Homo sapiens: one gene and its partners. The protein of the gene in region 5 interacts with the protein of the main gene of each other region in a biochemical or structural test. Each region holds a gene or a part of one and is shown on either strand. Other genes may lie near its edges. The genes, in order: PTPN3, RGS3, SNTG1, PDZK1, PBK, APBA1 and TJP1.

What was found.
Region 1: the proteins of PBK (region 5) and PTPN3 interact in a test that uses a peptide from one of them, tested with the Homo sapiens proteins (one large-scale study listed by IntAct).
Region 2: the proteins of PBK (region 5) and RGS3 interact in a test that uses a peptide from one of them, tested with the Homo sapiens proteins (one large-scale study listed by IntAct).
Region 3: the proteins of PBK (region 5) and SNTG1 interact in a test that uses a peptide from one of them, tested with the Homo sapiens proteins (one large-scale study listed by IntAct).
Region 4: the proteins of PBK (region 5) and PDZK1 interact in a test that uses a peptide from one of them, tested with the Homo sapiens proteins (one large-scale study listed by IntAct).
Region 6: the proteins of PBK (region 5) and APBA1 interact in a test that uses a peptide from one of them, tested with the Homo sapiens proteins (one large-scale study listed by IntAct).
Region 7: the proteins of PBK (region 5) and TJP1 interact in a test that uses a peptide from one of them, tested with the Homo sapiens proteins (one large-scale study listed by IntAct).

The regions. Positions count from the first base shown.
Region 1 is NC_000009.12:109,376,308-109,379,807, forward strand, and holds part of PTPN3 (tyrosine-protein phosphatase non-receptor type 3), read right to left. Parts: intron 3,327-3,500; coding exon 3,249-3,326; 3' UTR 1-3,248.
Region 2 is NC_000009.12:113,470,227-113,473,726, reverse strand, and holds part of RGS3 (regulator of G-protein signaling 3), read right to left. Parts: intron 1-3,500. UniProt on the Homo sapiens protein: Down-regulates signaling from heterotrimeric G-proteins by increasing the GTPase activity of the alpha subunits, thereby driving them into their inactive GDP-bound form.
Region 3 is NC_000008.11:50,656,407-50,659,906, reverse strand, and holds part of SNTG1 (gamma-1-syntrophin), read right to left. Parts: intron 2,999-3,500; coding exon 2,882-2,998; intron 1,316-2,881; coding exon 1,244-1,315; intron 1-1,243. UniProt on the Homo sapiens protein: Adapter protein that binds to and probably organizes the subcellular localization of a variety of proteins. May link various receptors to the actin cytoskeleton and the dystrophin glycoprotein complex.
Region 4 is NC_000001.11:145,679,869-145,683,368, reverse strand, and holds part of PDZK1 (Na(+)/H(+) exchange regulatory cofactor NHE-RF3), read left to right. Parts: intron 1-732; coding exon 733-869; intron 870-2,261; coding exon 2,262-2,457; intron 2,458-3,500. UniProt on the Homo sapiens protein: A scaffold protein that connects plasma membrane proteins and regulatory components, regulating their surface expression in epithelial cells apical domains.
Region 5 is NC_000008.11:27,831,318-27,834,817, reverse strand, and holds part of PBK (lymphokine-activated killer T-cell-originated protein kinase), read left to right. Parts: intron 1-1,684; 5' UTR 1,685-1,704; coding exon 1,705-1,762; intron 1,763-3,500. UniProt on the Homo sapiens protein: Phosphorylates MAP kinase p38. Seems to be active only in mitosis. May also play a role in the activation of lymphoid cells.
Region 6 is NC_000009.12:69,665,872-69,669,371, forward strand, and holds part of APBA1 (amyloid-beta A4 precursor protein-binding family A member 1), read right to left. Parts: intron 1-3,500. UniProt on the Homo sapiens protein: Putative function in synaptic vesicle exocytosis by binding to Munc18-1, an essential component of the synaptic vesicle exocytotic machinery. May modulate processing of the amyloid-beta precursor protein (APP) and hence formation of APP-beta.
Region 7 is NC_000015.10:29,703,969-29,707,468, reverse strand, and holds part of TJP1 (tight junction protein 1), read left to right. Parts: intron 1-1,723; coding exon 1,724-1,941; intron 1,942-3,163; coding exon 3,164-3,307; intron 3,308-3,500. UniProt on the Homo sapiens protein: TJP1, TJP2, and TJP3 are closely related scaffolding proteins that link tight junction (TJ) transmembrane proteins such as claudins, junctional adhesion molecules, and occludin to the actin cytoskeleton.

The DNA of each region.
Region 1 (3,500 bases), on a different chromosome or scaffold from region 5:
TCTGGAGGATGAAGAGGGCTTTTTCGCTTGCCCTCAAATGCTCATTTCTGAGGTACCCCCCCCAGAAAAAGGTCAGGTAGCAACACAGCAGCAATAGTATCCACACTAATCTAAAAGCATATTTAAATATGAATTACTGTGGTAGGAAACGAAAGACAACTGTGTGATCCAACCACTGCCCCCTAACCAAAGTTGCATTTTTTTCTTCTGGAAAGTCAAAACACCAAGTGCAGGTTCTAGAGGGTGACACCAGCAGGGATCTCTCATCTTGATTAAATTGGCACATCAACATGTTTAATTAGATCTTTCAGAAAGTGCCAGAACATAGGATGTAAATGTCTTCTCCATTCATATGCAGCCAAATTTCCCAGGCAAAATACTTATCCTGATTCTGATGTAGTTCTTCACTTAGGACTAAAAAAAGGCTTAAGTATAATTGCTTAAGTGTATAAGGTGGTGAAACAGGAATCTTGAGCTACGGATTTTAAGTGGTAATAGCTACAGGATTTACTTGAATTGTTTGCTCTTTTAGGTAATTCTCTTGTCTTGTTCTTCCCAGTATTTCCTGGATTTGTTCCTGGCAACCTCGCTGGGTCTGAACTGCTGGCCTGCCCAGTGGCAGAAGACTGCTTGCAACCTTTGGTAGGCTTTTTAGAAATTTATGTGACCGTAATGGCTGCATTTCTGCAACCATAATAAACAATTTGTTTTTGGAAAAAAGCAGTAAAACACCCATCTCCAAAGACATTTAGACTACTTTGCAAGCATTTTGCACACAGGGTGATGATGCATTTTTACCAAACAGTAATAACTTGCTAAATATCCTAATGGCATTTAAATTTTTGCCAGCGTTCCCTCCATCCCCCTTTCTTGGAGCTTGCTGAATTTTTGTGAGTCCAGATTATTTTGTGCTCTTGTTCTCTCTCTTCTAGAAGAGCATTTTCTATTTTCCTCTCATAAAAACCCAGTTAGGCTGGGCACAGTGGCTCACGCCTATAATCCCAACAGTTTTGGAGGCTGAGGTGGGAAGATCACTTGAGGCCAGGAGTTTGAGACCAGCCTAGGCAACACATCAAGATCCTGTCTCTACACACACACACACACACACACACACACACACACACACACACACACACACACACACACACACAAGCCAGGTGAGGTGGCATGTGCCTATAGTCCCGGCTACTCAGGAGGCTGAGGTGCGAGGATTGCTTGAGCCCAGGAATTTGAGGCTGCAGTGAACAATGATCATGCCACTGTACTCCAGCCTGGGCGACAGTGAGACCCTGTCTCTAAAAAGAGAGACAAAAATCCAGTGGATTCTATTTTTGACTGATGTGTTTTTGGGCTAATCACTGATAACTAAACTTTTCTAAGTAACTCACCCACAGCAGTGTCTGTTGCTGTTCTAGCCGATAAAAAGTCACATGAATAGCGTGATCTTATTCAATCCTCATGTTCCAACTAAAGTCCTAAGTATTGTTTCTATTTTACAGATAATGAAAGAGAGGTAGAGCTTCTAAGCAACCAGGCCCGCAAGTAGTTAGTGCTGAGTGGGCGTAGGAACTGAATCCCCTGCCCCTTAGCTGCAAACTTTCTGGTGGTTTCTTGTTTTCAATATGGGGTTATGGTACTGTGTGACATCTCCCTCCCACCTCTGCCATTTAGCAGTAAAATATCCATGTGGAAAAGAAACAAAGTATGCAAGTAAATATGCTAGCTCTAGAGATAAAGAATCTCCCATATAGGTCTTCATCCGTCTTGCTACCAGCAAACTATTCAATTGGCACCGAATTTGCTGAATATCAAAATGGCTTCATTTATGTGCATTATAATATGAAAACATCTTTTCTATAAATACCATTAAGAACCTGGCTTTACTTCCTCTTCTGAGTACATAAAAACCGCTGTTCAAAAATACCACATTAAATGTTTACACAATTTATTTTCCTTAAATAATAATTTGCTACAATCCTGTCACAAATTTAAAAAAATTTAACACGGTATTCACAAAGGCAGAATTCTTTAGGACAATCAAAATGATGGTGTTCTTAGAATAAATTAACATCAGATTGTGTTTATATTCAGATAGTCTGATCCTCTCCTTTGAAATGCAATGGAGACCATTGTGACTGGGGGTGAATGCACACATTTGTTCTTCCATACAGAGACTCATTCTTTATATATACTCAACGGTAATTTGAATCGTTAGGAATCCTGAGAAACACTCACCCCTGGGCACACACATGTACACAGCCCCACGGCCAACCCTCCAGAAGCTGGGTTTCCCATGGTTCAATTACTAGAAGCTCTTTTCTCAGAAGGCCAAACATTCGGAATATTTAGATGACACTGTCCCATCTCCCCTTGGGAAAATCATAAGGTTTCAAGTGGAGGAGCTTGAAGTAGCAGCAATACATGTAGGAGATTCAGTAGTCGGTGATTCCAGTCCTGGGTGCTGAGTGTGCAGTAGGAGGCAAGCAGAGGCAAGAGACACACCTGCTTCTACAACTAAGCCACAAGATGACCAGAACACACTGAGAGTACCAGTTCTCAGAGCCTCAGCTGAAAATTCACCTGAATGCACATTACTAATCCAGGTTAGGCACCAAGAGGGAACCTGAAGAGGGACACAATTCTCAGAAACATGAATATTGGAAGTCGCTGGGAGATGGGACAAAGGGAGGGAGGGCAGAGAGGTGTTGCTCAGCCTTCAGCCTGACCCCCAGTGCCCTGCCATCTAGTACATACGTCAGGGTTTCCTTAGCATCAGGGCGGGTGAATCTGAATTGTTCCAGCTCCACCTAGAAGCACAGAAAGCTCAGCCCTTACAGTCTGACACACAGAAACAAACAAAACATCCAAATGACCCAAGATAACCACACCATCTTGTTGCTGGGAGGACAACAGCTCTGTGGGTGTCCGGTCTCAATTGCTCCAGGATGCCGACAGGGGTGTGTGTGGTGATGTTAGGGAAGAAGGCATTAGGACAGGCCCCAAACTGAGATCCTTTTTGTATCTTTCCATAGAAATACAGGCCTAAATGATGCCATAATTGCATGCTTATCTACACCAGTTCCTATGTACACGATATCTTTTCTATAGAAGTTTAAAGTGCCTGGGTTCAGAGGTGCCCATTCCTTTCCCACAGCTACTGGTTCCTCTTGCTGCTTCCAGAGAGGTCTGTCCTCCTCTTTCAAGGAGGATGCCCTTGGGAAAGAGGAATGAACTTTTTCACAGTTGTCTTAACTAGGATCCAGCATTTGGACTAAACCTTCTTCATACACACGAAGAATCGCTTCACACACAAACTTGTACTGGCTCTGGAAAAGAAAAAAATGCTGTCAAGTCCTGTAGCTCCAGGAAATGCTGCCTACCACACCCTGTACCGGTGGGTCTTTTGCAGCATTTGTAAATATTCCCTGAGCGCCAACTCTGGGCCACAGGCCAGGTACACCTGTGAAGCCCTAGTTCCTATATGATGCGGGGAGGGGGCA
Region 2 (3,500 bases), on a different chromosome or scaffold from region 5:
CAGGCAAGGAAGCTGAAGATTATTAAGAGGTAAACAGGTTGGCTGGGCATGGTGGCTCACACCTGTAATCCCAACACTTTGGGAGGCTGAGGCAGGATGATCACTTGAGGCCAGGAGTTTGAGACCAGTCTAGGCAACATAGCAAGACTCTGTCTCTCCAAAAACGTTTTTTTAAAATTAGCCGGACGTGGTGGTGTGTACCTGTAGTCCCAGCTACTCAGGAGGCTGAGGTGGGAGGATCACTGGAGCCCAGGAGGTTGAGGCTGTAGTGAGCCATGATCACACCACTGCACTCCAGCCTGGGCAACAGAGTGAGACCCCAACTCAAAAAAAAGAAAATAGCTAAAACAGGTTGTCCAAATCACACAGCCAGTAAGTGGCAGAGCTGGGGTTTGCATTTAGGCAGTCCAGGGCCCCCACTGTTAGCCTCTCTATACCTATCATGGGTTTAAAATTTGTCCACAAAGTCTTTGATACTCTTCCTTTCAAGAGGTGAAGCCTAGTTCCTCCCTTCAGACATGGGCTGGACTTAGTGACTTGCTTCTAACAAATAGAATGTGGTAGAAATGACAGTGGATGACTTTCAACATTAGGATATTAAAGGTATTATTAGTTCCTTCTTTTTTTAACAGCTGTATTGGGATATAATTAACATATCATACATTTCATCAGTTTTGTTTATTATTGAGATGGAGTCTCACTCTGTCGCCCAGGCTGGAGTGCAATGACATGATCTCAGCTCACTGTAACCTCTGCCTCCCAGGTTCAAATTATTCTCCTGTCTCAGCCTCCTGAGTAGCTGGGATTACAGGCATGCACCACCCACACCTGGCCAATTTTTTGTATTTTTTGTAGAGACAGAGTTTCACCATGTTGGCCAGGCTGCTCTCGAACTCCTGACCTTAGATGATCCACCCGCCTCAGCCTCCCAAAGTGCTGGGATTGAGCCACCGTGCACGGCCACACTTCACCAATTTAAAGCATGTAATTTTCTTTTAGTATATTCACAGGATTCTGTAATCAATCACCTCTATCTAATTTTAGAACATTTTCATCCTCCCCTAAAAGAAATCCCATACTCTTTCGCAGTCACACCCTATTCCCTTCTCCCCTCAGCCCTTGTCAACCACTAATCTGCTTTCTGTCTCTAAGGACTTGCCTATTCTGGATACTTATGTAAACAGAATCACACAACGCATGGTCTTTTGTGATTGACTTCTTTCACTTAGCATAATGTTTTCAAGGTTCACCCATATTGTAGCACGTATCAGTATTTTAGTCCCTTTGTGGCCAAATAATATTCCATTGTATGGATATACCACATTTTGTTTATCCACTCATCTGGTGATGGATATTTCAGGTTATTTCGACTTTTTGGCTACTATGAATAATGCCGTTATGAACATGTGTGTGTGTACACATGTTTGTGTGAGCATGTGTTTTCATTCCTCTTGGATTTATACCTAAGAGTGGAATTGCTGGGTCAAATGGAAACTCTACATTTAATTGTTTGAGGAACCGCCAAACTTTTCCAAAGTGGTTGCACCATTTGACATTCCGGCCGGCAGTGTACAAGGGTTCCAATTTCCCCTCAACTTCTTCAACGCCTGTTATTGGCTCTTTTTTTATTATAGTCATTCTAGTATGATAGTATCTCATTGTGGTTTTGATTTGCATTTCCCTGATAACTAATGACATTGAGCATTTTTTCACATGCTGTTAGCCATTTTTCTTTGGAAAAAAATGTCTATTCAAATCCTTTACCCATTTTTGAGCTGGGTTACTCATCTTTTTATGGGAGTTCTTTCTTGCTTTCATTTTTGTATCACTTGCCTAGAAGGAAGCCAGCTGCCACATAATAAGGAAGCTCAAGCAATCCTACGAAGAGGTCCATGCGATGAGAAACAGAAGCCTCCTAATTACAGGTAGCAAGGAACTGAGGCCTCCTGCTGAGAGCCATGTGAATGAGCCATCTTGGAAAGGGACCCTCCAGCCCCAGTAATGCCTGCTCGGACAACTGCAGGTAGGCAGGCAGGCAGGGAGAAAGAAAGGAGGGACGGAGAGAGAGAGCGGGGAGGGGAGGAAGGGACGGAAGAGGCAGGGAGGGAGGAGAAAAGGAGGGAGAGAGGCAGAAAGGGAGGGAAAAAAAAACAAAAACCAACTCAAAAAAGCTTAGAAAATATATGTAGGGGACTTCCATTTCTGGGATGACAGATCCACTGAGGAAAACTAGAAATGCTAAACAAAATATGTTAAAGCATCTTCTTAGATAAACAACAAGAGAGAGAGGAGCTACCAGGCAGGATCTAGGGGAATGGAGGACTGTAGAAGGAAACCTAGTGTTTTTCTGGGCTAATTTCCTCCTGGGGTGTTTTCAAATTCCAGAGGGCTGATTGAGAGATCAAGAGACTGAGTGAGTTTCTGCCTGCTTCTCAGGGCTAGAGGAATAGGAACTAGGGACCAGGGCCCACCAAGAAGCAGGGTTCTTCTGAGCCCCACCTTTTGCATAGGGACCCTGAAGGGTTGCTCCATAGGAATAGAGTGAACTGTAATCAGACACAGCTACTCCAGGGACTACAGCTCGATTTCAAGTACTCTCAGTCCCAACACTGAATTAAGACTAACCCAGTGACCCTAGGCACCTGACAAACGAACAAAGATTTTTTGAAGGAAAATATCATCCTAGGTCTGCATTGAGAAGAAAATAATAATAATAACAACAACTCTCTGCCTATACTGTTTGTTTGTTGTTTGTTTGTTTTGAGTCAGGGTCTCACTCTGACACCCAGGCTAGGGTACAGTATCACAATCACAGCTCACTGTAGTCTTGACCTCCTAGGCTCAAGTGATCCTCCTTCCTCAGCCTCCCAAGTAGCTAGGACCACAGGTGCACACCATCATGCCCAGCTAATTTTTTTATTTTTTGTAGAGATGAGCTCTCACTATGTTGCCCACACTGGTCTCGAACTTCTGGGCTTGAGTGATCCTCCTGCCTTGGCCTCCCAAAGTGCTGGGATTATAAGCATGGGCCACTCACCACTCCCAGCCATGTGCCTGTTCTTTGCAGCAGACACAGCACACCTACAATGTAGATCCAAAAAGGTTGAAAGAAAAAGGATGGAAAAAGATATGTCAGGCAAATATTAAATGAAAGAAGCATGGTTAGCTATGTTAATATCAGGAAAATTAGACTTTATACCTACTAGAAATAAAGAAGACTTCATAACAATAATAGATTTCATAATAAAAATTTCAGCTCACCAGAAAGATAATAATTCTAAATCTGTATGTTGTTAACATAGCTTCAACATATGTAAAGGAAAAACTGACAGAACTGCAATGGGAAATAGACAAATTTACAATCACAGTGGGAATTCTAATACACCTCTCTTAGGAACTGACAGAGAAAACAGGAAAAATCAACAAGGATACGGAATATTTGAACAATATAAAGAGCAAACTTGACCTAAACTTGACATACACAAAGAACACTGCACCCA
Region 3 (3,500 bases), about 23 Mb from region 5:
GATCACACCACTGCACTCCAGCCTAAGCAACAGAGCAAGACTCCATCTCCAAAAAAAAGAAAGCTATCTCATTAGCCATTTTGGCAATTATTTCAGAAAACTGGAGTCGTGTATGATCTCCTTTTCCTCAGATACTAGCCTCTGTTTAAGAAATTGTCAGACCCTTCTTTACTAACAATACACTCAAGTATTTCAGGTTGTCCTTCCACCATTACGCCTACAGAAGAACTCAAAGCATGCACAGTGATGAGCAATCAATGAACTATACTTTTGGCTGGATTTTGCACTTCAGAGAACTTCAGCTTTAATCCAAAGTTCTCTATAAGGAACAGAAACTATAAACAATTTTGAGGTAATTATAATTTTTGTCTCTCTGCCTTCAGACACTTTTGATGCATTTTATTATATTTTAAATGTTTCAGCATTTTTCTACTCTGCTAAGTCTTTAACGGGAAGAGAAATAGCTAACATAAAGCAAAGGGAAATTAGCTCCCCTTGGATACAGAAACAAGGTCAACCTTATGCAGGAATTTAATTATCAATCTGTGGTGAGTCCAAGCCTACAAACCCTAAAGTAGAAAGTGAATATATATTAGTCTTCATGTTTTATAGGTTATTCCAATTTTAATTCTTTAAAAAACGCTATAGAAACCATGTGACATTTTATAGAATTTGTGATGGCTTGATATTGTAATAATCCTGCATATGGCATGAAATTCAACTGATATATGACAATCGAATGTTCTTTTACATATGCAAAAAGATGGTCAAGCCATGAGATTAAGAACAAAACAGCAAAACTTTTCTTTGCATTTTTCCTGATATTTTCTATATTTTCTAATTCCAGGTCTCACCCAAATCTTTCTCTTTTGCATTTTATTCAGAAAAAAAGAATTAAAAAAAAAAACATGGTAACAACCAACGTTTAAATTCAGACTACTTTCAACTGAATTTTCTTCTTCCCCAGTGAACTCCTGAGGAGCTTCTCCCTGTTCCCTCACCCACGGTGGGACTGCAGAGTCTGCTTGCAAGTTATTTAAGCAGATAGCTGAGTGCCAGTGCACTTCTGTGCATTCTATATTTTCTCTTTTTTGTCCAGTTTATTTTCTTTCTCTTTCATTTGTCTTTATCGTGTCTCTTCTTTCATTCCATGAATGATTTGTTTTCATGAGCTGCTTATGAGCCCAGAGGCACTATTTGCTGAGGAAAAGCCATTCAAATACTGACTACATATTGATCATACCTTGAGGATCTTGCACATAATCTCATAAACTGAGAATGTTTTCTCTGCTCTCGTCCAGTCCCAGGTGGTCACCTTTAAAAGATAAGAAAATAATGTTTAATTTGTTTTAGAAAGTTATTTACCACTGTATTTGATTTGCATAATATAGTGAAAAATAAGAAAAAACTTTCACAGATGTATCTAGTCTCTCATCTGTGAAGCCATGCTCATAAAGGACCCTACATAATGCTTTTGTTTCCTCTTTTCCAAGCTTTGTTACCATTTGTCTTATGCTTTCAGCAAATGATTTATATTATGTGCAACAGTTCTCATTTGCCCAGTGTCCTTATATATCTTAAATAATATACGCATTCTCTACCTATAAATACTAAGTATTTACATTCCACACTCATATTTTTTTTTTAATTTACCACTAGTTAAATACAGAGAATACCAGACCTCAACACAGCTATATTTTTTAAATATACATCATTTATATTAAGAAATTCCAAGATGACTGTGACATTGCAAACATACCCAAAGCATAATGCAGTTATTTCACTTACTTAGGTTGGAAACTATATTTAACTGTCTTGTCAAATAAATTATTCAGAGTAGGAATAGAGTAAAATATATAAATATCAATTTTTCCTCTGTCTTCCTAGTGCTTTAAACTTTGTGTAGAGACAGACATTTAAAACAGCAGCAAGTTAGACCTGATGATTTCTAAATCTTATGTATTATTAGACCTGCAAGTGACTGGTCTGGCATTTGGTATTTATATTCAATAAATATTTATTAAGTGTCTTCTGAGCTGCAAGGTACATGTTTCCAAAAGCAAGACTTGAGGTGCAATAGGTATCTATACATATCTAGTACAAATCTCAATAACTAGGATATAGAATATAATAGAAGATGAAAATGTTATTGATTTTATATAGAGAGACCTGTACAACATAAATAAGCAAGTTCGACTTGTCATAAATGATAGCTTACCAGAATGTATTTGTGTTGTTTGCCAAGGATAGAATCCTCTAATTTAAATGTTGAACACCATGAGAGTTAACATCATCCTATGGGATTACCATAGGGTGAGATAGACTTAATAGTAGCTAGATAAGATGCTATCATTTTGAAATTTCCTTATTATTCTTTGCTAATAATAAATTACTAGTAATTAAAAGTGCTGAATAAATTTAAAAGAACTTTCAAAAGATCCTTGGAAAATAAGAGTTTAGTAAACATGTTCATTCATGTATAGCCCTAAAACAGTTTATTCTTTTTTATTTCACTTTTGATATATTCATTTCTTTAATTTTTATTCCATAAACAAAATACACTGACATATGCTTGAAAATGTTTCTTAAAATCTCCTTTCCCATGTCGTCATGAGATTTGTAATGGCATTATAATTTGATCCATTATTTTATAGGTTCACTATTTATAAAGAAGTAAGTTCCAGACTTTTCAAGGGTGTTAAAGCAAATGTTTAATGTCAGAATATATATTTTAGTAAGTTAAATCAGATAAACTGATTTCTACTTTTTCTCTATATTATTTTTTAAAAATATTGATGGTATACTATTTGGTGCTGTTAAGTTGGTGTCAATCTCTTGTGATAATATGGAAACGACCAATACATTTCAATAAAACACGTACTGGAGGTGCCAGAAACTTGTAGAGACATGAGCCCCTCAGGGCCAGGAAGGTCGGGGAGTACACTCTGTCCTGGAGGGGGTCTTGCTCCCGGGCTTCACACCAGCCCATGTAGACAATCTGCAAGAAAATGGAATACAATCAACTGTCAAAACTTCTTATTTTAGATATCTTATATCTAAAAATATTTAGATGCAAATATTAAAAATATTTTAGGTATTTTTCATGTAGTATTAAAAACTCACATAAAATTATCAAATTGATTGATGCAAAAAAGTACATTAAACCAGATTTGGCTTCAGTAAATGAATGTAAACCTCTCATAAGAATTTCTTATACGTTTCTACCAGCATTTATCAAGTGTTTATGCCATCCAACCTGCCATGGATTATATTTCCCACTCTATCAATTCTTACAGAAAAAAATACTTATTTATAATAGAATTCATTGATGCATCGCACTTGTTTACCAATTACTGACATTTTATTAATTGGGAATGTGCTTTAATACAGAATGTTGAAGTGAGTAAAGAAAGCAAATCAGATAGACATCTTATGGCAATACCACTAGGGCGGCACACCACTTCTCCTCTGTGCCTGATAGGGGAGAATGATAAATGCCC
Region 4 (3,500 bases), on a different chromosome or scaffold from region 5:
ATAATGCAGTGTGGGCATGTTTTAGCGCTTTCTGGTTCAAGGGGCCAAGGCCACCCAAGATTCCATCTTTGCATTTAGCTGACCTCAGAAATTCTATTCAAATCAACAAATACCCACTGAGTAAAGGCTGTGTCAAGTTCAGTGCCAGGACCTATAACTGTGATTTTAGATCAGAAGCCAAAGGCCGAGTTAGCTCTAAAATCGGAAGTTTGTTTCACATTATTGGGAGAAAAGTCTTTACCATTGGATTTCGAGTTTTTCTTTGCAATGGAGTGTTCTGTGAAAGGGTGGTGTATGCAAAGCAGTCCCTCAAAGGCCAAAGGAGCTGAGAAACCAAAGGACAAGGCAGGCAAATCCAGTTTGTTGGTACATTGGAATTTATCAGGGGAACTTACGAACAGAAGCATGGTCTTGGACAGCCACAAAACATGTAGATCTCTGTGTTACTCCCCAGACCCAAGGCTGATATACCATAGGGAAAGGGTATATGTGCTCCAGCAAGACAATCGAAGGCAGCCCTCCGCAATAGCCAAGAATGCTATAGTGCATCATAGCCTATAATTTGCGTGATAACATTAAGGTTGACATGTTCTTAGACTAGGGACAGTAAATGAAGTAGAAATCGGGAGGCAATCACAGGACTGGGGCTAATCAGAAGTCAACATCACAGATTACCATCCAAGAGGGAGTCACTTGTGTCTCCACATGGAGTTTACCCCTACTCTCTTCCAGGTAAAAAGGGGGTGTACATGACTGATATTACACCTCAAGGTGTGGCTATGAGAGCTGGAGTTCTGGCTGATGATCACTTGATTGAAGTGAATGGAGAGAATGTAGAGGATGCCAGCCATGAGGAAGTGGTTGAAAAGGTATGCCCCAAAGGGTACTTTTCTTACCCTATCTTCCACTCTATTCTCATTGGAGGTGACAGGAAGACAGGGGTGGTAGGGGACAGCATGAGTTTATGATGGAAAAAATATCCAGTTGAGTTGCCCCTTCATATTAAGGGTGAACAGACTCACACTAGTGGTATAAGCAGTGTTAATATAGGGTTTTGGAATAAAGCCTTCCCTAGTTTCACATGAGGTCTACAAAATTATTAACTTTACCTTTTGGATCTTGTTTGTATCTGATTGGGAGCCCCCTCTGAACTGTTTGATTGAGACAGGGTCTCACTCTGTTACCCAGGCTGGAGTGTAGTGGCACAATCTCGGCTCATTGCAGTCTCGGCCTCCTGGGCTCAGATGATTCTTCTACCTCAGCTTCCTGAGTAGCTGGGACTACAGGTGTGCACCACCGCACCTGGCTAATTTTTATGTGTGTGTGTGTGTGTGTGTGTGTGTGTGTGTGTGTGTGTGTTTTGTAGAGATAGGGTCTCACTATGTTGGCCAGGCTGGTCTTGAACTCCTGAGCTCAAGTGATCTGCCCGCCTTGGCCTCCCAAAGTGCTGGGATTATGGGCGTGTGCCACTGCGCCCTCTGAATTTACAATAAGTTCACTGTTGAGCCGTTAATACTGAAATGCTTTAATAGGAAGTGGGAGATAACCGAGATTTTCCTTTGAGGTCATATGGAACCTTAAAAATTGACCAACCTTCTCTTTGTAGAATGATTTTTTGACGTGGACCCTTACTTTCTTTTCTTTTCCAAACTCCCTTTCTAGCTTTTATCTAGGTACCTTTATGGGTTTTCTGAATTCCAGCTCCTACTTGGGCTCAGTTAGCACCTATGTGGGTAGGTCATACTTAAATAAGGGAAAACAACTATAGAAGTGGAGATAGGGGCCGGGCGCGGTGGCTCACGCCTGTAATCCCAGCACTTTGGGAGGCCGAGGCGGGTGGATCACGAGGTCAGGAGATCGAGACCATCCTGGCTAACAAGGTGAAACACCGTCTCCACTAAAAATAAAAAAAAAAAAATTTAGCCAGGTGCGGTGGCGGGCACCTGTAGTCCCAGGTACTCGGGAGGCTGAGGCAGGAGAATGGCGTGAACCCGGGAGGCAGAGCTTGCAGTGAGCTGAGATAGTGCCACTGCACTCCAGCCTGGGCGAAAGAGTGACACTCCATCTCAAAAAAAAAAAAAAAGGCGATAAATACATATCAGTTAGCTGGTAGGGCATAGTGTAACAGCTTAAACTCAGGCCTTTCATCCCCTATCTTTTGTTGAACCTAGAGACTGTGTGCCTTTATACAGAAACTTTCTTATTCCCCAGCATTGTTCTTGGGGGTTGATGTCATTCCTCATCTGTGTGTGTTGTTACAGGTGAAGAAGTCAGGAAGCCGTGTCATGTTCCTGCTGGTGGACAAAGAAACTGACAAGCGTCATGTTGAGCAGAAGATACAATTCAAAAGAGAAACAGCCAGTTTGAAACTGTTACCCCACCAGCCCCGAATTGTGGAGATGAAGAAAGGAAGCAATGGCTATGGTTTCTATCTGAGGGCAGGCTCAGAACAGAAAGGTAAGGTACAAGAGCAGGAAACTTGGCAGTAACCAGCAAATTCCTCATCCCATTCTGACTCCAGAGTTCCATTAGGTTCCCAACTCCCAGCCAGATGCATGAGCGGCATAGCATAGAAGGCACAGCTGGGTCAGCGTCTATGTCACATGAGGGTCTGATGTTGGGCATCAAAAGTTTCCATAGCATTATGATAAGGCAGAATTTGGGATCTGGGCAACGGTATCCTGGTAAGTTAGCTCTCTGGGGCGGGGGTGGGGGGAAATCCAAATTGGTAGCGTTTGTTTTTGGTACCAAATTGGTAGTATTTTGTGATGTAAATACTCCTCCCATGTCCAGTTTCAACTTACTAACACGATGTCACTGAACACAATGAAGTGTTGCACAGAATTGGCTTTTGTGAGCCGGTGTGAGCCAGTATAGCACACCGCTGGACCTGAGGCCGAGGTGTGGGTGAGGATTTGGGACTCAGAACCAGGAGTCCTCCTTCCTTGCAACTCAATAGGAAGAACACTAGGTTCTTTCAGGGAAGGTAAATACATAAAAGAACATGAGTTCGGGCCGTATAAACTGCTATTCGCCCATAAGTTGTTATTTTCTTTTCACTCTCTGTTTACATTAATTTATCAAATATTAATTTGGTTTGTGTTTTGTAAAAACATCCTCAGTGCCTTGGAGAAAGAATATCATATGAAGCAGACAGGAATTCTTTAGTGAAGGAGTCTACCATTTAGTAGATAAGAGATATGTCCATAATGAAGGGAGATAGAGGTTAAGTACCTTCATACAGGGGCAGATCAAGCACTGTGATAATTCAACGTTAGAGTAAGCTTTTCTCACTAAAAAGGTACCAGAAGCCCTCATAGTAGGGGTGGCACTTGAGTTCAGGCTTTGTAACATGAATAGATTTGGGAAAGTAGACAGAGCTGGGATAAGGAAGATCATTCCAGGAAGGTGGGAATCATGTGAACACAGTCAGGAGACACTGGCACAGTTTAATTGGCACATGATGTGTAGTACAAGAATTCGTTGGAAAGGTAGGTTGG
Region 5 (3,500 bases):
TTCAAGCGATTCTTCTGCCTCAGCCTCCTGAGTAGCTGGAATGACAGGTACACGCCACCACACCTGGCTAATTTTTTTGTATTTTTAGTAGAGACGAGGTTTCGCCATGTTGGCCAGGCTGGTCTTGAACTCCTGATGTCAACTGATCCGCCTGCCTTGGCCTCCCAAAGTGCTGAGATTACAGGCGTGAGCCACCATACCCGGCCTCATTTTATTTTCATAGACAATTTTTATAACCATTTATTGAGATAATTAATGTATCATAAAAATCCACCTTTTGAAAGTGTAAAATTCAATAGTTTCTAGTATACTCAGAGATGAATATATTAAACCATTATCTGGTTTTAGAACCTTTTCTTCACCCCAGAAAGAAATCCCATACCCACTGGCAGTCATTCTGCATTCTTTGTCTCCCAGTCCTTAGTAACTATTCAGCTATTTTTGTCTCCATGATTTGCCTATTCTGGACATTTCCTAAAAATGGGATCATTGGACGGGCACGGTGGCTTATGCCTGTAATCCCAGCACTTTGGGAGGCCCAGGCGGGCATTATCACAAGGTCGGGAGTTCGTGACCAGCCTGGCCAATATGGTGAAACACCGTCTCTACCAAAAATATAAAAATTAGCCAGGTGTGGTGGTGGGCGCTGGTAGTCCCAGCTACTCAGGAGGCTAAGGCAGGAGAATTGCTTGAACCTGGGAGGCAGAGGTTGCAGTGAGTCGAGATCATGCCACTGCACTCCAGCCTGGGCGACAGAGTGAGACTCCATCTAAAAAAAAAAAAAAAAAAGGATCATCATATATGTAGCCTTTATGTGTCTGGCTTCTTTCATTTAGTATAATGTTTTCAAGGTTCATTCTTGTATATATCAGCACTTTATTCCTTTTTATGACTGAATAATATTCCATTGTATAGATATGCCACATTTTGTTTATCCATTCATCATCTGATGCAGAGTTCTGTTGTTTCTGCCTTTTGGCTGTTATGAATAATGCTGCTTGAACAGTTTCCTTAAAGGATATAAGAGAGCTGTTAACAACTGCTCCTGGGAAGTATAACAGGGAGACATACTGTTTACTTTTTTGTACTAGGTGATTTTTTTTTTAGCTAAGTGCATATATTACTTTATAATGAAAACAAAAATACCCAATCACTAATATTATGATGGGGGTAAGTAATTGTACTTTTTGGTTTTAGTTTCCTCATTTTAAGTAAAATTGGGCTAAATGTTTGTTGAGGTCCTTTTTAGCTCTCAAATTTTGTTTGTGATAACGTGAACGATAATGTTATAGGCTTTTTTTTTTTTTTGAGACGGAGTTTTGCTCTTGTTGCCCAGGCTGGAGTGCAATGGCACGATCTCGGCTCACCGCAACCTCTGCCTCCCAGGTTCAAGCGATTCTCCTGCCTCAGCCTCCCAAGCAGCTGGGATTACACGCATGCGCCACCACGCCTGGCTGATTTTGTATTTTTAGTAGAGACGGGGTTTCTCCATATTGGTCGGGCTGGTCTCGAACTCCCGACCTCAGGTGATCCACCGACCTCAGGTGATCCACCCACCTCAGCCTCCCAAAGTGCTGGGATTACAGGCATGATCCACTGCGCCTGGCTATTGGCATTTTTCTTCATGAATGAGAGTTGTATTCTTTATATCTGCTGTGTAACTTGCAATTTGTTTTCATCGTAGGACTGAGAGTGGCTTTCACAATGGAAGGGATCAGTAATTTCAAGACACCAAGCAAATTATCAGAAAAAAAGAAATCTGGTAAGATAGCAGATGTAAGATTTTTTTTTTTACTATTGTTGTTTCTCTTAGAAATGTCCTAGTATTATTTAGTTTGATCCTTTATTATCGGTCACTTAGAAACTTTAATGTAACTCCCCTTTATGATGTTAATCTTAACAAATAAGACTTATTTTATAGGCCACGGTTTGATCATCTCTGGACTAATTTTATTGACAATCTAACAGGTTTGGAGGCTCTCCCTGCCCAAGAATCAACTTAGCTTGACCCATTAAGGAACTGCTTTACCTTTCTCCCTCTCATCCATACATTGCTCTTGTGAGGGAAAGATATTTTCCAAGGCAACTCAATGGACAAAGGAAAATCTTTTCAACAAACACCTAGATATCCACGTGCAAAAAATAAGCCTTGACCCTTAACTCCTATTATATAAAAAATAGCTACAATTAAATTTCTAGAAAATAACATGAGAAAATATTCTGTTGTCCATTTCTAGTGACAGATTTTTCATATTGACCTTGTATCCTGCAACCGTCCTAAACTCACTTATTCTATTAGCTTTTTAATAGATTGCTTGGGATGTTGTATATGGTTGGTCATTTGTGGATGAAGAAAGACAGTTTTACTTTGTTCCCCAGTCTGTATGGCTTTGTTTCTTTTACTTTTTTTAATTGCACTGGCTCCAGTATGTTTTTGAATAGAAATGTTAGTGGATATACTTGCCTTGTTCCCAATGTATTATGTTAGATGTAGGTTTTTCACAAATACCCTTTATTAGTTTGAGGAATTTTTCTTCTATTTCTAGTTATTATCGTGAGTGGGTATTGAACTTTGTAGAGAGCTTTTTCTGAATCTATTAAATTTTCTTTTAAAATCTCTCAATGTGGTAAATTATGTTAATTTTCAAGTGTTAAACTGAACTTCCTTGTGTAAAGCCAGTTTGGTCATGATATATTTTATATATTGCTTGATTTGCTGATATTGTCTATATTCATGAGGGATATTGGACTGCAGTTGTCTTTTTGGGATATCTGTCTAGTTTTAATATTAGGTTATTCTGTATTCATAAAGATGAGAAATGTTTCTCTTTTTTTAATAGAAATATCTTTTTCTTTAACTTTGTGTAGAATTGGTATTATTCCTCCTTAAATTGGTGGAATTCACTAGTAAAGCTATCTGGGCCTGGAGTTTTCTTAGTAGGAAGAGTTTAACTGTGATTTCACAGTTAATAGATATAGGGCTATTCAAGTGATCTCTTATTTTCTTTGTGAATTTTGTTAGTGTTTTTTAAGGAATTTGTCCATCACTTCTAAATTTTCAAATGTACTGGTGTGAAGTTATTCTTGATACACCCTTATTAACCTTCTAGTGTCCTTTTTCATATCTGGTACTAGTATTGTATATTTTCTTAATTTTTTTCCTTAATCAGTCTGACTTGAGGTTTATGTATGTTGGTGAATGTTGCATGCACTTGAAAAGGGCATTTTTTTCTACTCTTACTGGGTACGGTGTTCTACAAATGTCAATGTTCTACAAATGTCAATGATATTCTGTATACTTTTTATATTAATTATGAGAGAAGAGAGTTGAAGTTTCCAACTACAATGTGGATTTGTCTGCTTCCCCCCACCCCCAATTTCTATCAGTTGTTGCTTCATGTATTTTGAAGCTTTGTTATTAGGTACATACACATTTAGGATGGTTATTTCTTTTCTTTTTCTTGTTTTTTTGAGTTTCCTTTTGTCACCCGTAATGGAGT
Region 6 (3,500 bases), on a different chromosome or scaffold from region 5:
ACTACAAGCATGCGCCACCATGCCCGGCTAATTCTTGTATTTTTAGTAGAGACAGCATTTCGCCATGTTGGCCAGGCTGCTCTCGAACTCCTGACCTCAAGTGATCTGCCTGCCTCAGCCTCCCAAAGTGCTGGGATTACAGGCATGATTGTTTTCTAACTTAAATACATTTGATTGAGGATATTCATCTTTATATAAACCCAGTACTGATTCATAGGTCAGCCCAAATACAGTAGATGGTAATACAGCCTTATGGGCAAACAATTGAAAATGAAAGGCAAAGCATTTTATTGTGAATTCCCTAAGTGACTGCTCCAGGTAAACCAAGGAAACCAATAAGGTTTCCCTGCTGTCCCTTGAGGATGCCAAACATGTTCTTATCCAGCCTTTTCATTTTTGATATCCTCTCTGCCTAGAAGACCCTTCCCCCAAATATCTGCAGGGCTCACTACTTCACATCTTTCAGCTCTTTCTGCTTAAGGTCTTCCCTGACCATACTATATAAACTAATGTCACCCCCCACCCACCCACTATCATCAGTCCATTGCTCTCTCTCTTTTATTCTTCGTCATAGCACTTACCACCTGGCATATTATGTAATTACTTATTTATTTATTTTTAATCTCCTTCCACTAAAAGTTCTGTGATATTAAGGACATGCCTCCCCCCACCCCATATTCCTTGCACCTAGAATAGTTTCTGGCCCAGAGAAAGTGTTCAATGAGTGTATGTTGAAGGAATGAATAAATTTCATCATTAAAACCTCAAAATCACCACTCATTACAGTTGAAGTTCCATAAACTCACCTGGAATCATGACATAATCCCATAACTCAAGGATCTAAAGGGTTCACAATCATTTTGTGAAAAATGTGGGGTTTTTAAAAATAAAGCTTCAATGTATATATCAGGTATGAATAAATAGTTTTAATGCTATCATAAACTTGCACAGGCCATAAAAGGCAACTCATTCGATGTCCATTGTGTAAGAATGAAATCCTGAAATTTAAAATTTTAGATACTGTTGCTAGCTTACTTAAAAAAAGTTTATTCATGTATTCATGTGACAAATGTATATTGAATGCATATGATGGGTATGGTATTGGGCGAGGTGCTATATTTGATTTTTCTTTTGAAAACTGACTTTACATGTACGTCACTGTAAAACCATATTCTACCATTACAGATAGAAAAAGCTCATCCTTTAAAAAAACACTTACATTTTTCCCCATTGTTTTACTATAAACTTCTTAAAATTTAGCTCAGATCTCTGAGAGAGAATATTTACAGGAAATACAAGTGGAGTCTTTTATTTGGATAATTTTAAAGGTAAACATTCTCCTCTTTTTACTGCATTTAAGGGAATGAAGAACCACTGTATTTAGTGAGATTAAATGCTCACTATACAAAAATTACTTAAGTAGTTGTCAAACTCCAATTATATAGCGTTAATTGGTTTCACTACAAATTCCTGCTTTTCAAACACATGAGGTCCTCATGGTTGGGTAATGATCTTTTATTCACTCCTAATTGACTCACTGCTCTGTTTCCACAATGCCCACAAGTCTTTGTCATTCTACTCCTGGCTTCAACCTGCCCACCTCTCTTTGACCTCACTTAAAAGACTGTGGCCAAATTCCTTTCTTTCCACCTCAAAATTCCTATGCTTCTGTCTCAAAAGAATCCTTCCTTTGCTTTCATCTAGTATCCTCCCATCTTCTTGAAGACTTAATTCCCTCAATTGAGCCTCTCCCTTACATTTTCAATCTCTTTTTCCCTCAATGGATTGTTCTCCTCAGCTTATAAAGCAGGCTCAAGTCTTCCTATACTAAAAATACCACTTTCCCTCTACTACACCATTGTTGTGATATATCATACTCTCTCTCCTTCTCTTTTATCTCCCAACTTATTGAAAATGAAGTCTGTTTTCACTGCTTTCCATTTCCCTTCCCCCACGCCTCCCTTCAACCCTTGCCCCTGGCTGCCACTTCCACCTACCACAAAGACAATCAAGGAAATCCAAGAGTCAAATCCAATGGCTTTGCCTTGGTTGCACCGTCACCCATGGGGTGTGCTGTGTGAGTGACAGGGGCTCTCCTCACCCCTTCCAGCTTCCATGACACTGTACCACTTCACTTCCATCATTTTTCTCCAATTGCCCCTTGTTTAACGTGGTTCCTGTCCTCTTCTTTCTCTTTCCCCTCCAACATACAGACATCCCTCAAGGATCCTATCCTTACTTTTGCTTCTTCTTTCTTCATTTTCTTTATCAGTGATTCCTGGGATATGAAAATCGCTCCTAAGCAGATGACCTACAAATCTCCTGGTAGCTCTAACCTCCCTCTGTATTCTAGTCCCTTAACTTGGACAAGCCTGTCATGCTCAAAAAGAAACTTCTCTCCTCTTCCTTATCCTCTGTTATATCTTCTTTCTGAAAATGACCCAACTGCTCTCTCAGCTAAGCCTGACAATGATCTTTTGGCCTCCCTTTTCCCTTCCTCACTTTCCAGTGACTGTTCAAGCTCCTCAGATAATTCCCGCACACCACCTCTTAGGTGTGTTCCCTTCTTGCCTCCCACTGCCTCTTTCCATCTTTCCCCTACTTTGACAATAGAGTCTATCTGGTCTCCCTCCTGCCAGCCTTTTCCCATGTCATTCCATCCAACATAATACTACAAAAGTATTGCCCCAAAGCACAGTTCTGATACTGTCAATCTTTCTCCTCACAAATCTTCTATAGTTCCCCAGTCCTTACTGAACAAAATCCACACTCCTTAGCTTGGCGTACAAGTTGCTCCACCACCTTGAACAAACCTCTCTTTCTTGCTTTATCCCTCATTACATCTCTTGGCATTCCTAGCGCTTCAGCCAAAGCACACCATTTTTTTGTTTCCTGTGTAGGCATACACCTTCCACTGCCAGGCCTGTGCTACACTGTTCCTCCCCCAAGCATGCCCTTCCTTCTCTGCCAACCCAAATGCCACCTTAATCACAGCTCAAATGCTATATCCCATGTAACCTTCCCTAATTCTTCCATCAGAAGTCACTTTGTACCCTGTGAACTCCCACAGCTCTGCAGGAATACTGCTTTTTCAGCACTTAATCATTTTTCACTATTTTTACAGTTAGTAACATATTTCCTCTTTTCTCCTTCTAGATCATGATCCACCTCTGGCCAGGATCTAAGACTTAGCATTCTTTGAACCTCCAACCCTTCTCAACATTCCCTGTCCCCTATCCAAAGGTACAGTGGATCTGAGATGCGGGAGGCAATTAACAAATGTTTGCAAATTAATTATTGTAACCCAGAGAGTTAACTTCAGATTTTACGGCTTGAAATTCTCTCAATTTTAGCAACAATTACTTCTTCTTTCTAGGATAAAAGTCCTATCTCCCCAAGGTACTACAGTTAATTCCTTTTGGCCCCAGAGGTCAATTTTCAAATATCTCTTACCCCTAAGTCTTCCGAAACAAACAAACACAATAACAACAAAACAAAAC
Region 7 (3,500 bases), on a different chromosome or scaffold from region 5:
CATCCACAGATGGTCAGGGGCGGACAGAGCTGGCCTCTGCTCTGCAGCTCAGGCTGCGCTCTGCTCCCTTGATGTTGTGTCGTAGGATGTCGTCCCTGGCACTCCGGTCATGCTGGAGTGAAACGGCAGCTACCTTCATGTAATTCTGTTTCGTTGGTCTTTCTGCTCACCTTTGAGCCCTGGCTCAAAACTGTACTTTCAGGAAGTTGATAGCCTCTACTTTTGAAGCAGTCATTGATACCACATCCCCTTTGCCTTTGGCGTTCTGTGATTACTAAGTTAATCTACTGTCTCTCTTTCGTGGATGTTTGGGATATGCCCATACAAGGGTCTTCGCCTCATGGAACCTTGGAAGCCTTGCCTCCTACAGCCAGAGCGGGCGCTTGGTCCTCAGGGAATGCTGAGGCAGGACCATACTCAGGCACACTTAAAATCCTAGGGAGATTTTATCAAGTCTGAGATGCTGTCAGCCGTGAGATGCACCATTGTTTTGTGTCACTAAAAATGGAAGAACAGCCAGGCACGGTGGCTCATGCCTCTAATCCCAGCACTTTCGGAGGTTGAGGCGGGCGGATCACTGGAAGTCAGGAGTTCCATCCTGGCCAACACGGTGAAAACCCATGTCTACTAAAAATACAAAAATTAGCCGGGCATGGTGGCAGACGCCTGTAATCCTAGCTACTCAGAAGCTGAGGCAGGAAAATTGCTTGAACCTGGGAGGTGGAGGTTGCAGTGAGCCAAGATTGCACCGCTGTACTCTAGCCTGGGTGACAGCAAGACACTCCATTTCAAAAAACAACAGGAAGGGAAGAACAGGGCTACCAATTAAATTGTGACTTACCAGTTTTAAAGTTCCAATTTCATGGATTTTAAAATGTGCTTCATAAAACTCTGTACCTGTTTAGTATCCCTTGTCCAAACTTCTTGGGTTCTGAAGTGTCTCATATCTTGGGTTTTTTTGGATTTTGGAATATTGCCAAAATGCTCCAATGAGCATTTCCTTTGAGCTTCATTTTGACACTCAAAAAAAAGTTTCCGATTTTGGAGCATTTCAGATTTTCAGGTTAGGGATGCTTCACCTGTAGTTGGGTGTTCAAGGCATCAGATTTTACACTTTCAGGTTGCAATTCATTAATGAAGGTCGTTTGACTAATTGCCTTCAAAAATTGAATTTTTGACATTTCTCTAGAATTTTTGAAATTTTCTAGAATGGAATTTCTCTAGAAATAATATTCTCGCCAGGCGCGGTGGCTCACGCCTGTAACCTCAGCACTTTGGGAGACCAAGGCAGGTGGATCACGACGAGATCAGGAGTTTGAGACCAGCCCGGCCAATATGGTGAAACCCCATCTCTACTAAAAATACAAAAATTAGCCAGGCTTGGTGGCGTGCGCCTGTAGTCCCAGCTACATGGGAGGCTGAGGCAGAAAAATCACTTGAACCTGGGAGATGGAGGTTGCAGTGAACCAAGATTGTGCCACTGCACTCCAGCCTGGGCGACAGAGTGAGACTCTGTCTCAAAACCAAACAAACAAACAAAAAAGAAATAATATTCTCTGCGATAACCCTGTCAGTAAAATCTGTTGCCAGAAACTTATCTTGTTAAAGTAACTTCTTGATTATATGGAGAAATAAAAGTGAAAGCACGTAATACAGTAGTAGTAAAAGCAAAGCACCTGTGTATTATTAGGAATTCACTCACTAGCCATTTCTGAACTTTCAGTCCTTCAGCTGTGGAAGAGGATGAAGATGAAGATGGTCATACTGTGGTGGCCACAGCCCGAGGCATATTTAACAGCAATGGGGGCGTGCTGAGTTCCATAGAAACTGGTGTTAGTATAATTATCCCTCAAGGAGCCATTCCCGAAGGAGTTGAGCAGGAAATCTATTTCAAGGTCTGCCGGGACAACAGCATCCTTCCACCTTTAGATAAAGAGAAAGGTAAATGTGTTTATTTTTCTCCTTAGTTTTGATAACTTAAGAGTTGCCCTGTGTGCACTTCAGAGCTTATAGTGCTTGGCTAATAATGCAGCACCTCTCTATCTCCAGATGAGTGCTGTAGCGAGGGGTGCCCTGGGGACGGTGTTGCAAGCAAGCAGTGGGTGGCCTGAAGCAAGGCTGTGGTGACCACACTGCCTGCTTTTACTTTTGGTGTGAAATAAAAAATGATGGCATAGGACAGGCCACGGGATGTCTCACCTGCTGAGCAGCCTAGGCTGACCTAACCAAATTTGTCTTTGAATCAGTCAGCCTTTGCGTCTCTGGAGATGGGTTAGGTAACACCCACTCAGAAAGGCTTTGCTGTGCCTTCACCTGATTGGAGAACCTAAACCTCTTGACAGGTACTGTCTTATTCATCACCCCAGAACCTAGCACTAGTACATGCTCAGCAGAGTGCATGAAGGAGTCTCAGAGGAGATGACAGCATGTTTCTGAGCTTCTTAAGGAAACTTATTTTCATAATCCTCCTGGATCTACCAGGATATTATAACGAAGTGTGTTGTGATTTAGCATCTTTTAGCAGTGCTTTTACTTCCTAAACAAATTTAGTTCGCTTTTTTGTATTTTGCCGGAATACTGACATCTGATTCTGTACTCTGATTTTGGGGATATCCTGTTTTAAAAACCAGTAGGACTGACTGTGTTGGCCCTGCATGAATCTCTTTAACCACCTATGGAGCAAACAAAACATTTTGAAAATGGAAAATATATCACATTCGCAACAAGCACATTTGAATATGTTTTTTATTATAGACCCATATGATTGAATGCAGTAGCCACTGCCTGCACGTGGCTAGCTAGCACTTGAAGTGTGACAATTTGGGATTGAAAGATGCTGGAAATGTGAAATACACACCAAGTTCCAAAGATTTCATATATTGATTACATGTTGAAATAACAGTGTTTTCGTTATATTGAGTTAAAATATTAAAATATTGTAAGATTTGATATCACTTGTTTCTTTTTACTTTCTAACGTGGCTACTGGGAAATTTAAGATTCCATATGTGGCTGCTGTTACGTTTTTTTGTGGTCAGTGCGACTGTAGAGAACTAACTCCATTAGGCTTTCAAGCATATAATTAGAAGCAGGGTGAGGAAAACTGGGATTCTAGAAGAAAGACCACATCCATCCTCTCTGCCTATCCCCTTTTCCAACTCCAGGTGAAACACTGCTGAGTCCTTTGGTGATGTGTGGTCCCCATGGCCTCAAGTTCCTGAAGCCTGTGGAGCTGCGCTTACCACACTGTGCGTCCATGACTCCTGACGGTTGGTCTTTTGCTCTAAAATCATCCGACTCCTCGTCGGGTATGCTGTCTTCACTCTGTCCTTTGGGAGCTTTGGGGACTGTCGTTGATTAATACCTGGGCTGATGATGCTGCCCATGCTGTGTGTTAGCAAATCTCTATCTCTGTTCCTGTGGCCTTGTAGGCATCACCAGTGTTTTCACATTTATTTGTGGTGCATATATTGTAAATAAATATGGAAAGGTAGAAGACTT